Homo sapiens: one gene and its partners. The main gene of each other region encodes a partner of the protein of the gene in region 3 in a complex. Each region holds a gene or a part of one and is shown on either strand. Other genes may lie near its edges.

Region 1 (3,748 bases), on a different chromosome or scaffold from region 3:
GCAGGCGCTCAGCAGCACCCAAGACTCACCACTGAGCAGTGAAGTCCACAAACTCGGGGGAGAAACGGTCGGCTGGGAGCTGGGGGGACGGCTCCTCCACCACCTGCTTCAGCTGCTGGAACGGGGTCCCCCAGGACTCGTAAGGGAACCGCAGGATGGCCATCTCAATCTGCAGCGGGGACAGGGGGTCAGAGGCCCCGGCCCCAGATACAACCACGCTCTGCACCCAGGAGCGAGGGTTGGGGGCTCCCACCCATCCTGGTACCAGAGCCAGGCGTCAAAGCTGCACAGCTGATCTCCCTACCACATCCCAGCAGAACAAAGGCGAGAAAGCCGGGGATGCCAGCTCTTAGCTCCTCCGACCCAGCCAGCAGGACCCAGCTCAGGAAGCAGATTCAGCCCACACCGGGACTGGTGGGACCATCATAGGGTTTTCAGAAAACCTGAATTCTGAAGATTTTACAAAACAATGCAGGTTCCAGCTGCTCTGGAAAAATCTGAGGAGCTGGCAACTTTGGGCCGTAGCCTCATGAGCCAGGTGGGCAGGTCCCAGGTGGTCACAGCCAATCCCCTTCCTAACATCTGACCATCTCAGACTTCAGCATCTGCTGTCATTAATTTGGGCTGTTTTCACAGAGGAGGCACATGGGAAATGCTACACACACACACACACACACACACACACACACACACACACACACAGCTGTCTCCAAGGCCGCGGACAGAGTGTGAGACCATGAGGCTGCTTCGCCTCTGCACCCGTGAGCCTGCAGCCTCATCTTCTGCAGGGCCCCAGCAGTTTCCCTCCTAGACAAGTGGCCTGTGTGGCCACATGTGCCCTGCTGGATCCAGATTTCCTGTGGGTGACATCGGGCCGGTGGGTCTCTGTCCTCGCTCCAAGCTCCCAGCCCTGTGGTTGGCAGGAAGTCATCATGGAAGGGACGGACTAGCTAGCTTACAACCAACTCTGGGCTCCAATCATGATGACTGGATGGAAAAAACAAGTTATGTCAGCCCTGGCCCCGGCCTGGAAGAACAGAGAATTCCGAGGCTCCAGCACAAGGGCCCTCACTGCCGGCCGTCATCACCATGATGAACGGAAGAGACCTCAGCACAAACACTTGGCACTGGCAACTGGAGCCCGGACAAGACCCTAAGGACTGTGCTGAGACTGTGCCTCCCATCAGGCTAGAGGCCCTTTCCAGCTCAGACAAACACACCCACACAGGCAGGGCCCACTGCGTGTGTGTGCATGTGTGCATGCGTGTTCACAGGACAAAACCGTACCGATTTGGGGGGCTTTTCTCTTAGAATTTTCACTGACTGCAATATGTAGAGCAAGTACCCCATACGAGCTACAGGAGAAGGACCAGCGGCCATGAGAGTTATAATTAGAAAAGCAGAAGTGTCCAAACCTTCAACCTCGTACTCCTTTATTTTTTCTAAAGAGCTCAAAAAATGAAAAACAACAAAAATAGCCTCCAGACACGAAGATGTGCCATATGGTGTTTTCTGCCAGGAAATACTAAGAAACAGCCTGAATGTCCAGCGCCAGGGGCCGGCCCCACCATGGGGGCGGAGACCCAGCCAGGACCGTAGTCGCACCCCTGTGACTCCCCAGCGACAACACTAACAGGCCAGCACCCAGTCAGCACTTGCTCCTGGCCAAGGGCCATCCCCGGCATGACCCCTGTCTGTTCTGGGTGATTCCCACTGGCATCCTGAGGCTTGTGCAGTGAGTGGGAAAAAGCCAACGCCAAGAGAGCTCTGGGGCCCTTGCAGGATGGGGGGAGGCCGAGGCCAGAGCCCCACCCAGGGGGACTCTCCCGACTCTGTTTCATCAGTCGCTCCCCCAGGATGGCTGAGAATTTGAAATGGAAGGAAAACAGCAGGAACAAGGGAAACAACCCACATCAGCAGACAGGGTGACTGAATGGTGGCAGATGGTTATGGAGTCTTTGGAAGGGATACATACAGGAGTCTATTATAATTTAGAGAAATTGGCCAGGTGCGGTGGCTCACACCTATAATCCAAGCACTTTGGGAGGCCGAGGCAGGCAGATCACTTGAGGTCGGGGGTTCGAGACCAGTCTGACCAACATGGAGAAACCCCATCTCTACTAAAAACACAAAATTAGCTGGATGTGGTGGTGCACACCTGTAATCCCAGCTACTTGGGAGATTGAGTGAGGCAGGAGAATCACTTGAACCTAGGAGGCAGAGGTTGTGGTGAGCCGAGATTGCACCACTGCACTGCAGCCTGGGCACCAAGAGCAAAACTACATCTAAAAAAAAAAACAACAAAAAAAACAAAAAACAAAAAAAACAGAGAGAGAGAGACAAATATGAACAACATGTAATGCTACAAAATTTTTTTTAAAAAGTTTTTTAAAAAGAAGCATTACGAGGCCAGGCGCAGTGGCTCACACCTGTAATCCCAGCACTTTGGAAGGCCAAGGTGGGTGGATCACGAGTTTGAGACCTGCCTAGCCAATATGGTGAAACCCCATCTCTACTAAAAATACAAAAATTAGCCAGGCATGGTGGCGCACGCCTGTAGTCCCAGCTACTCGGGAGCCTGAGGCAGGAGAATCACTTGAACCTGGGAGGCGGAGGTTGCAGTAAGCCGAGATCGCACCACCGCGCTCCAGCATGGGTGACAGAGCGAGGCTCTGTTTCAACAACAAAAAAAGAGAAGCATTACATATTGTTTGTATTTCTCTAAATTTTAATAAAACGTATTTTATTATATGTAATAAAAATATTATATATATAATATAATGCACAATGTTGGCACTGAAACGGGGTAAGAGGTGTCTCTAGGTAGAATAACTACAGTCATTTTCCCCTTACTGTGCCTCTATTTTTATGTTAGGTTTCCACTACGTTTGTAACTTGTGAAAGAAAAACCTAACCTGTGCCTAAAGTGACCACCTCCGCCTCCCGCTGTGTGCACCTGCTGATCCTCCATTAAGCCGGGAGCATTCCCTGCCCTTGAACCTGGGCTGGCCTGTGACTCGCTGACCAACACAATGAGGCAGAAGTGATGCTGTGCCAGTTCCAGGCCTAGCACTTCAGAGAACTTCCTTTTAGATGCCAGCCATCATGAAAGAACTCCAACTCTGCTGACACTGCCATGCTCTGAAGCCCAGGGAGCAGGCCAATGTGAGTAAGTTGCATGGAGAGGCCAGGCAGAGGAGGCCCATGTTTGTGAGGCCGTCTTGGGCCTTCCAGACCAGCCCAGCCCAGCCATGACCCCAGCCAATCCCAGGTACAGCAGAAGAGCCATCCAGCTGAGCCCAGCCACAGTGGTGGAAACATGAGAAATAAGAAACCGCTGTTGGTTTGGGTCACTAGGTTCTAGGGTGGTTTGCTATGCAATATTTGATAACTGAAATATACACTTAGCACACACTTGTCCAAGTTCCACCAGCCATATCAGAAGGCCACTAGCCATGGTGGCCCCAACAATCATGATGGATGGACAACTGGAAGGGAGACAGGGAGATGGGGAAGGGACATAGGGTGTGTGTATGTGTGAGGTAGTCATGAGCAGGGTCTCTAATATCCAACCAGTTCTGTGCAGTCTAAATACAGCAAGAACTTGTCCTTTGCATCAAACTTAGGACTTGGAAAACTGTTATTGCAGATACAGCACCTGCCTTCAGCCTGAATATTCCTCTCCACCTCAAAAAAAAAAAATTTTAATTGAAAAATTACATGTCACCAATTAAAGAAAATTGAAGGT
Region 2 (3,748 bases), on a different chromosome or scaffold from region 3:
ATATTGGCACAGCTGGAGCCTCTGACGTGCACGTCACAAGTAAGCCTGTGGATAAAATCAGTGTTCCAAACTGTGCCCCTGCTGCCAGTTCCCTGGATGGTAACAAACCTGCTGAGTCTTCACTTGCATTTAGTAATGAAGAAACCTCCACTGAAAAAACAGCAGAAACGGAAACTTCACGAAGTCGTGAGGAGAGTGCTGATGCTCCAGTAGATCAGAATTCTGTGGTGATTCCAGCTGCTGCAAAAGACAAGATTTCAGATGGATTAGAACCTTATACTCTCTTAGCAGCAGGCATAGGTGAGGCAATGTCACCCTCAGATTTAGCCCTTCTTGGGCTGGAAGAAGATGTAATGCCACACCAGAACTCAGAAACAAATTCATCTCATGCTCAAAGCCAAAAGGGCAAATCCTCACCCATTTGTTCTACAACTGGAGACGATAAACTTTGTGCAGACTCTGCATGTCAACAGAACACAGTGACTTCTAGTGGCGATTTGGTTGCAAAACTGTGTGATAACATAGTTAGCGAGTCCGAAAGCACCACAGCAAGGCAACCCAGCTCACAAGATCCACCCGATGCCTCCCACTGTGAAGACCCACAGGCTCATACAGTCACCTCTGACCCTGTAAGGGATACCCAGGAACGTGCGGATTTTTGTCCTTTCAAAGTGGTGGATAACAAAGGCCAACGAAAAGATGTGAAACTAGATAAACCTTTAACAAATATGCTTGAGGTGGTTTCACATCCACATCCAGTTGTCCCTAAAATGGAGAAAGAACTGGTGCCAGACCAGGCAGTAATATCAGACAGTACTTTCTCTCTGGCAAACAGTCCAGGCAGTGAATCAGTAACCAAGGATGACGCACTTTCTTTTGTCCCCTCCCAGAAAGAAAAGGGAACAGCAACTCCTGAACTACATACAGCTACAGATTATAGAGATGGCCCAGATGGAAATTCGAATGAGCCTGATACGCGGCCACTAGAAGACAGGGCAGTAGGCCTGTCCACATCCTCCACTGCTGCAGAGCTTCAGCACGGGATGGGGAATACCAGTCTCACAGGACTTGGTGGAGAGCATGAGGGTCCCGCCCCTCCAGCAATCCCAGAAGCTCTGAATATCAAGGGGAACACTGACTCTTCCCTGCAAAGTGTGGGTAAGGCCACTTTGGCTTTAGATTCAGTTTTGACTGAAGAAGGAAAACTTCTGGTGGTTTCAGAAAGCTCTGCAGCTCAGGAACAAGATAAGGATAAAGCGGTGACCTGTTCCTCTATTAAGGAAAATGCTCTCTCTTCAGGAACTTTGCAGGAAGAGCAGAGAACACCACCTCCTGGACAAGATACTCAACAATTTCATGAAAAATCAATCTCAGCTGACTGTGCCAAGGACAAAGCACTTCAGCTAAGTAATTCACCGGGTGCATCCTCTGCCTTTCTTAAGGCAGAAACTGAACATAACAAGGAAGTGGCCCCACAAGTCTCACTGCTGACTCAAGGTGGGGCTGCCCAGAGCCTGGTGCCACCAGGAGCAAGTCTGGCCACAGAGTCAAGGCAGGAAGCCTTGGGGGCAGAGCACAACAGCTCCGCTCTGTTGCCATGTCTGTTGCCAGATGGGTCTGATGGGTCCGATGCTCTTAACTGCAGTCAGCCTTCTCCTCTGGATGTTGGAGTGAAGAACACTCAATCCCAGGGAAAAACTAGTGCCTGTGAGGTGAGTGGAGATGTGACGGTGGATGTTACAGGGGTTAATGCTCTACAAGGTATGGCTGAGCCCAGAAGAGAGAATATATCACACAACACCCAAGACATCCTGATTCCAAACGTCTTGTTGAGCCAAGAGAAGAATGCCGTTCTAGGTTTGCCAGTGGCTCTACAGGACAAAGCTGTGACTGACCCACAGGGAGTTGGAACCCCAGAGATGATACCTCTTGATTGGGAGAAAGGGAAGCTGGAGGGAGCAGACCACAGCTGTACCATGGGTGACGCTGAGGAAGCCCAAATAGACGATGAAGCACATCCTGTCCTACTGCAGCCTGTTGCCAAGGAGCTCCCCACAGACATGGAGCTCTCAGCCCATGATGATGGGGCCCCAGCTGGTGTGAGGGAAGTCATGCGAGCCCCGCCTTCAGGCAGGGAAAGGAGCACTCCCTCTCTACCTTGCATGGTCTCTGCCCAGGACGCACCTCTGCCTAAGGGGGCAGACTTGATAGAGGAGGCTGCCAGCCGTATAGTGGATGCTGTCATCGAACAAGTCAAGGCCGCTGGAGCACTGCTTACTGAGGGGGAGGCCTGTCACATGTCACTGTCCAGCCCTGAGTTGGGTCCTCTCACTAAAGGACTAGAGAGTGCTTTTACAGAAAAAGTGAGTACTTTCCCACCTGGGGAGAGCCTACCAATGGGCAGTACTCCTGAGGAAGCCACGGGGAGCCTTGCAGGATGTTTTGCTGGAAGGGAGGAGCCAGAGAAGATCATTTTACCTGTCCAGGGGCCTGAGCCAGCAGCAGGTAAGCAAAACATAATACAAAATTAACAGTCTGAGAAGCAGATTCCCTTAAGAGTCACTGTGGTGTCCTGGTAAAAATATAGGCATCTTTGTTGTTTTGAGGCCTTGCACTCATTGGGTAGGTAGCCAAGTTAATAGTCACCACCATCAGGAGGGGCACGTCATCTCAGGGTTGGACAGATTTTGCTTCCTGTATTGTAGACTTACTGCTTGGTTGCTTAAGCTTATAAACACTCCTGTCTCATTCTGGAGTGGTTGCAACTTTGCAAACCTAGAAAACAATGCCTAGATCACAGGTACTCTAAAGTGGTGAAAGAATTTAGCAGATGTTTTTATTCACATGGCTTAATCCTTTTCTCTAGTACCATAGAAAACAGTGCCAAAAAGCTGTGTTTTATCTACAAGCCTGAAACTCCCTTCCTCCCCTATCATCCTAGTCTGTATTCTGAGCAAATTTAGAGTCAGAGTGGTTTCATGAACAGCTGTAAGTATTGTTCTGAGCTGACTTCCCAACATCCAAAATGGTGGTATTAGGTCATTGGTGGTTTTTTGTTTGTTTGTTTTTGTTTTTTTTGGGCTAGGGGTGTTGTTGACGGGGAACTCCTTCCTTTTCCTGCTTGGGGAGTGGACCTCTAGTTCCATTGCCTGTTGCTTTTGGGCAGCAGTCTGAGAATTCAAGACCCTGCACAGTGCAGGGGATAGGATGCAGGATTTCCGCCCAAGCCCAGTCTGCTGAGCTGCTGTCACAGGGCAGACCTTGTGTCTGCTTTATCTTGGTGAAGCAGCTGCACTGAGCAGATTGCTCACACAGCAGCCTGTTCCATCTGTGGGTAACCATGTTCCGAGGCAGCAAAGAGAAACCGCTATTGCTCCGTGGAAATAAACTATCTGAATAAAACTTCTTAACGGGGGTTGAGGCTGAAGCTGAAACGGGAGTCGGACACGATCTTGGCTCCTGAAGTCTTTAAAGGTCAGTTTGATGCACACTTCTATACCACCACCTGTTACCAGCTGTAGACAGAAGACCTATCTCCATGCTTGCCCCTAGGCTTTTGTAGGTAAGAAGCAGCCTGTTTTGTCTTTATTGTTTATTTTTGCTGTTCTTTTCAATTTTTGAAAATCCCTTTACACATATGTATTAAGAATGTGGGGGAGGGTTATGGAGAGAAATGAATCAATGGAGCAAAAGAAGTTGCTTTGGAAGAAGCGCAATTTAAATACAGTGGTTATTTTCCCTGGTAAAG
Region 3 (3,748 bases):
CCAGAGCCCTTCTGCACACCCTGGTAATCACGGGGACATCCCTAATCAAGGATGGATGATCCATTCAAGAATTCCAGAGATGGACTGGCCTATGAGGATCACACAGGCCAGTGATGCCTGGCCTCTTGGGGTAAAAACTGAGTCTACTACCCAGGAAAATGCACATTCTTATTTCTATCAGGGAAATTGCTCCAACAGACAGGTTTCCAAATTCCCACTCAAAGTATCATGATCCTCCCTCCTAGGGAAATAGAGTTTGGTGCTGGCTGTTTTCCATTTGCCTGGCCAGATCCACTCTCCCCCTTCTCTACCCGTCCCTGGCTCCTGGGAGGCTGATGCCTGGGGACTACTCCAGCAGACAGCCCACTCGGCCTCCCTGATGGGTCCAGCTGGTGGAAGGCGCTGGCCAGGAGCAAGAGTTGGGGTGAGGAGTTAGGGCCAAGCGGTATTCTTCCACTTTGCAGAAGCTCAGGCAGCCGTCTCCATACCTTCCCCCCAGCTAATTAGTCTCCCTCCCCTTCCCCCTTCAAGTCTACCCTCCCCCAGCTGTTACTAACCCCAGGCCCCTGCACCAACCCTCTCACTCTTCCTAACTCCTGCCCATGGCTTGTAAACAATCTGTTTTTCAAACTCTCCTCAAAACACCCATTTTAAGTGTGTCATCTGTTTCCTCCAAGACCATGATGGGTATAATCATATTTACATTCATTGCATATAATACATATATATATTCGCTATATATGTTATGTATTATGTTGTTATTATGCTTTAACCTAAAGACCATGGTCCCTATGTCAGGGTTAACAAAATTCACTACACAGTTTCTAGTGGGTATCCATGTGTTTGGTCCATGATGAAAAATAAATCTTGTTGCTTTGCCCCCAGAGAAGATGTATACCATCCTAATACTCTCAGGAAGTGGTTTGTCCCATGCTTAGGGTCAATTAAGGTCATCCAGGTGTAGCCCAAAGCCCCTGGAGGCTGGGAATCAATTTTAACTTCAATCTAGAACTTCTGCTTTCCTATAGGTTCTAAATAGAAGCAGGGCAATCCCCTTTCAAGCTGGAAGGATGTTGGGGAATCTGTCGCATGCTGATCCGCAGGCCTAGGCACACCCTCTGCCCTTGCCTGCCCCCAAGATGTGGAAAGAGGCCCCCGAGTTCAGGGGCACAGATTCTCCAAAGGGCAAAACCTCACATCTTTGGCTGGGGCTCTAAGCAATACGGGTAGTGCTGAAATCCTGTTTGGACACTGTGCTACCTCAGGAATCCAACAGTAGTTGTAACCCTGCAGCCACTTTCTATTTCTTGGGTCCTGAAATTCCCATCTGGTTGGGGTGTTAAAGTCTCTGATGGGGCACAAGTCACCTCTGATTTGGTGTTGTTCCTGATACGGACACATACTACACAAAACTTTCTGCAAGTGACCTCAAGGTTTTCAGGGAGCCTCTGAAGTGTATCCATAGACTGGTGGGAGGCAGAAAACCTGTAATCAGAATGATGCAATTTGTGAACCCCAGCTCTGCCATTTCCTGGACAAGTTACTTCACTTCTCTGAGCCTCAAGTCAAGGATAATGGAGATAATAACATTCCTGCCTACCCGCCAGGGTGGTTGTAGAGATTAGATGAGGTCATTCCGGAAAGCATAGCACCAGACCCAGCACATAGGCCAGTCAATAAAGTGTGGCTGTCATCATCACATATTGAAATTAAGGCCCAGAAGGGAAGGGATCTGGGCAGTGTTGCAAAGCAGGGTGGCAGAGGCGAAGCTGGGCCCAGACTTCTAGAGCCCAGCTCGGTGCTCCCACACTTAGCCTTGATGGTGCTCCCCCATACCTGAACAGCAATGCCCAGTAACACTCACTACAGAGCCTTGCAGACACCAAGGCAAGGCAGCAGCTGCTCCACGCCAATGTCACCCACAGAGTTGTAGTCCAGCTGCAGGGCCACGGGCCGCCGGAGGTGCTGCAGCACAAAGGCCAGGGCAGCACACTCAGTGGGGCCCACACTGCAAAATGTCAACTTGAGGTGCCCAACATTCAGGCCACGTGCAGCCTTCCGAGCCAGCCGCTCCTCCTGCATCTCGTACAGGCTCCGGATGAGCCAGATGAACCCGGGCATGGCATGCACGCTCTTGGCCTCACCCGGTGCAGCTGGCGGGATGGAGTGGAAGTGCTTGCGGAGGCTGCGGGCCAGACACCAGCGGGCACAGGCCTGGCGCCGGAGCAGGGCCTTCTCAGATGTCTGGCACTCAGCCAGCAGGCCCCAGTGCTCCCGGGACAACAGCCCTGCCAGGAAGGCTGCTGTGATCTGAAGGTTGTGCGGCTCGGCCTTCTGCAGCAAAGCTGCCACGCTGCTGTCCTTTCCCTCCGAGGCCTGGATGCACATCGTGGGCAGGAGCCTGGCCATTGGTGAGTTGCCTGGCCTGCCACAATTGAAGAGGTGTCTGAGCAAAGCTGGTGGCACATCAGCACTGAGTGCCAGGTAGAACGCGGCAAAGAAGCACTGGAAAGTGATGTGAAGGAATTCCAGGGGCGCCGTACTCCCTGGCACGACACCTTTGGCACGCACCAGGAAGCCAAGAGAAATGTCATCAGGGCTGACCTGTGCTGCCTGGAGCTGCTGGGCTGAGAACACGTAGCAGCACATGCCCAGGCCCCACAGAGCCAGTCTGCCCAGGTGCAGGAGGGTGGGGAGGCGGCCCCGAAGAAGACTGGGTCCCAGACCTTGGGAAGCTGAGTCTGGGGGGGTGGCATGCAGCAGAAAATGCTGCAGAATCAGCAGGTACATATCTGTAGTGGTCTTTGGGGACCCCCCCTCCTGCAGCAACAGTTCCTGGTGGCATTTGGACACCATCCATGAGAAGACAGGCAGGTGGCACAAACCGTGCAGGGCTGAGGTCTCTTGGAGCAGGCGGATGAGGCGGTCCGCCACCCCGGGCTCATGATGGCGCTTCCTCAGGTACAGCTCGATGCCCTGTTCAGAGAAGCCCTTGAGGTTGAACTCGGTGCGGATGTACTTCCTGAGGAACGCCGACACAGCGGCCGGACGGCTGGTCACCACCTTGCGGGCATTCTTCAGCAGGTTGCCCTGCAGAAGGTTGAAGAGCAGGGTCTGGACAGAGGTGGGGTCGGTCGGGGAGCAGTGGCGTTCACGATCCGTGAACCTGAACTTGAACTCGTCAAAGCCATCAAAGGTTAACAGGACACGGTCAGGGTGGTCAAGGAGTAACTGGAAGATGTCTTCTTGACCAACATCAGGCCAACAGCAGTGCTCAAAGAGTAGAGTCCGCACAGAGAGTGGTTTGGCCATGCACTGCAGCTGCCGGCAGCTGAATGGGAAGACAAAGAGAAATTCCTGGAAGTCTTGCCCTGCAGCCCACAGCAAGTGCAGCCGCTGCAGGAGCGTGCTCTTGCCACTGCCCGCCTCACCCACCACCAGCACAGTGTCCGCATCGTCATTGAGGTGGCCAGGGGTGCTGAAGAGCTCCTCCAGGCCCAGGGTGGCTGGGCTCTTCTGCGGGGGTCCAGCCATGCCCACATCTGCCCAGACCTCCAGGACATTCTCTGTGTATATGTCCTCCAGGCAGAGCGTCTCTGCTCCATCATAGGTACTGAGGAAGCGAGACTGAGCAGACACCGTGGTCCTCAGCTTGGCCATATACTTCTTGCATGTGGCAGCTGGAAGGCAGAAGAAGAGGCAGATGAAGGTGGCACCATGGTGAAGACGGGACCTAACCAGACAATGG

Evidence for each region.
Region 1: NOD2 (region 3) and MAP2K3 share a complex: the UniProt entries of both Homo sapiens proteins name them as parts of the signaling complex.
Region 2: NOD2 (region 3) and AKAP13 share a complex: the UniProt entries of both Homo sapiens proteins name them as parts of the signaling complex.

Annotation. Positions count from the first base shown.
Region 1 is NC_000017.11:21,308,563-21,312,310, reverse strand, and holds part of MAP2K3 (dual specificity mitogen-activated protein kinase kinase 3), read right to left. Parts: intron 170-3,748; coding exon 30-169; intron 1-29. UniProt on the Homo sapiens protein: Dual specificity kinase. Is activated by cytokines and environmental stress in vivo. Catalyzes the concomitant phosphorylation of a threonine and a tyrosine residue in the MAP kinase p38.
Region 2 is NC_000015.10:85,579,603-85,583,350, forward strand, and holds part of AKAP13 (A-kinase anchor protein 13), read left to right. Parts: coding exon 1-2,505; intron 2,506-3,748. UniProt on the Homo sapiens protein: Scaffold protein that plays an important role in assembling signaling complexes downstream of several types of G protein-coupled receptors.
Region 3 is NC_000016.10:50,710,490-50,714,237, reverse strand, and holds part of NOD2 (nucleotide-binding oligomerization domain-containing protein 2), read right to left. Parts: intron 3,681-3,748; coding exon 1,865-3,680; coding exon of another isoform or gene 1,864-1,864; exon of another isoform or gene 1,601-1,863; intron 1,486-1,600; coding exon of another isoform or gene 1,485-1,485; exon of another isoform or gene 649-1,484; intron 1-648. UniProt on the Homo sapiens protein: Pattern recognition receptor (PRR) that detects bacterial peptidoglycan fragments and other danger signals and plays an important role in gastrointestinal immunity.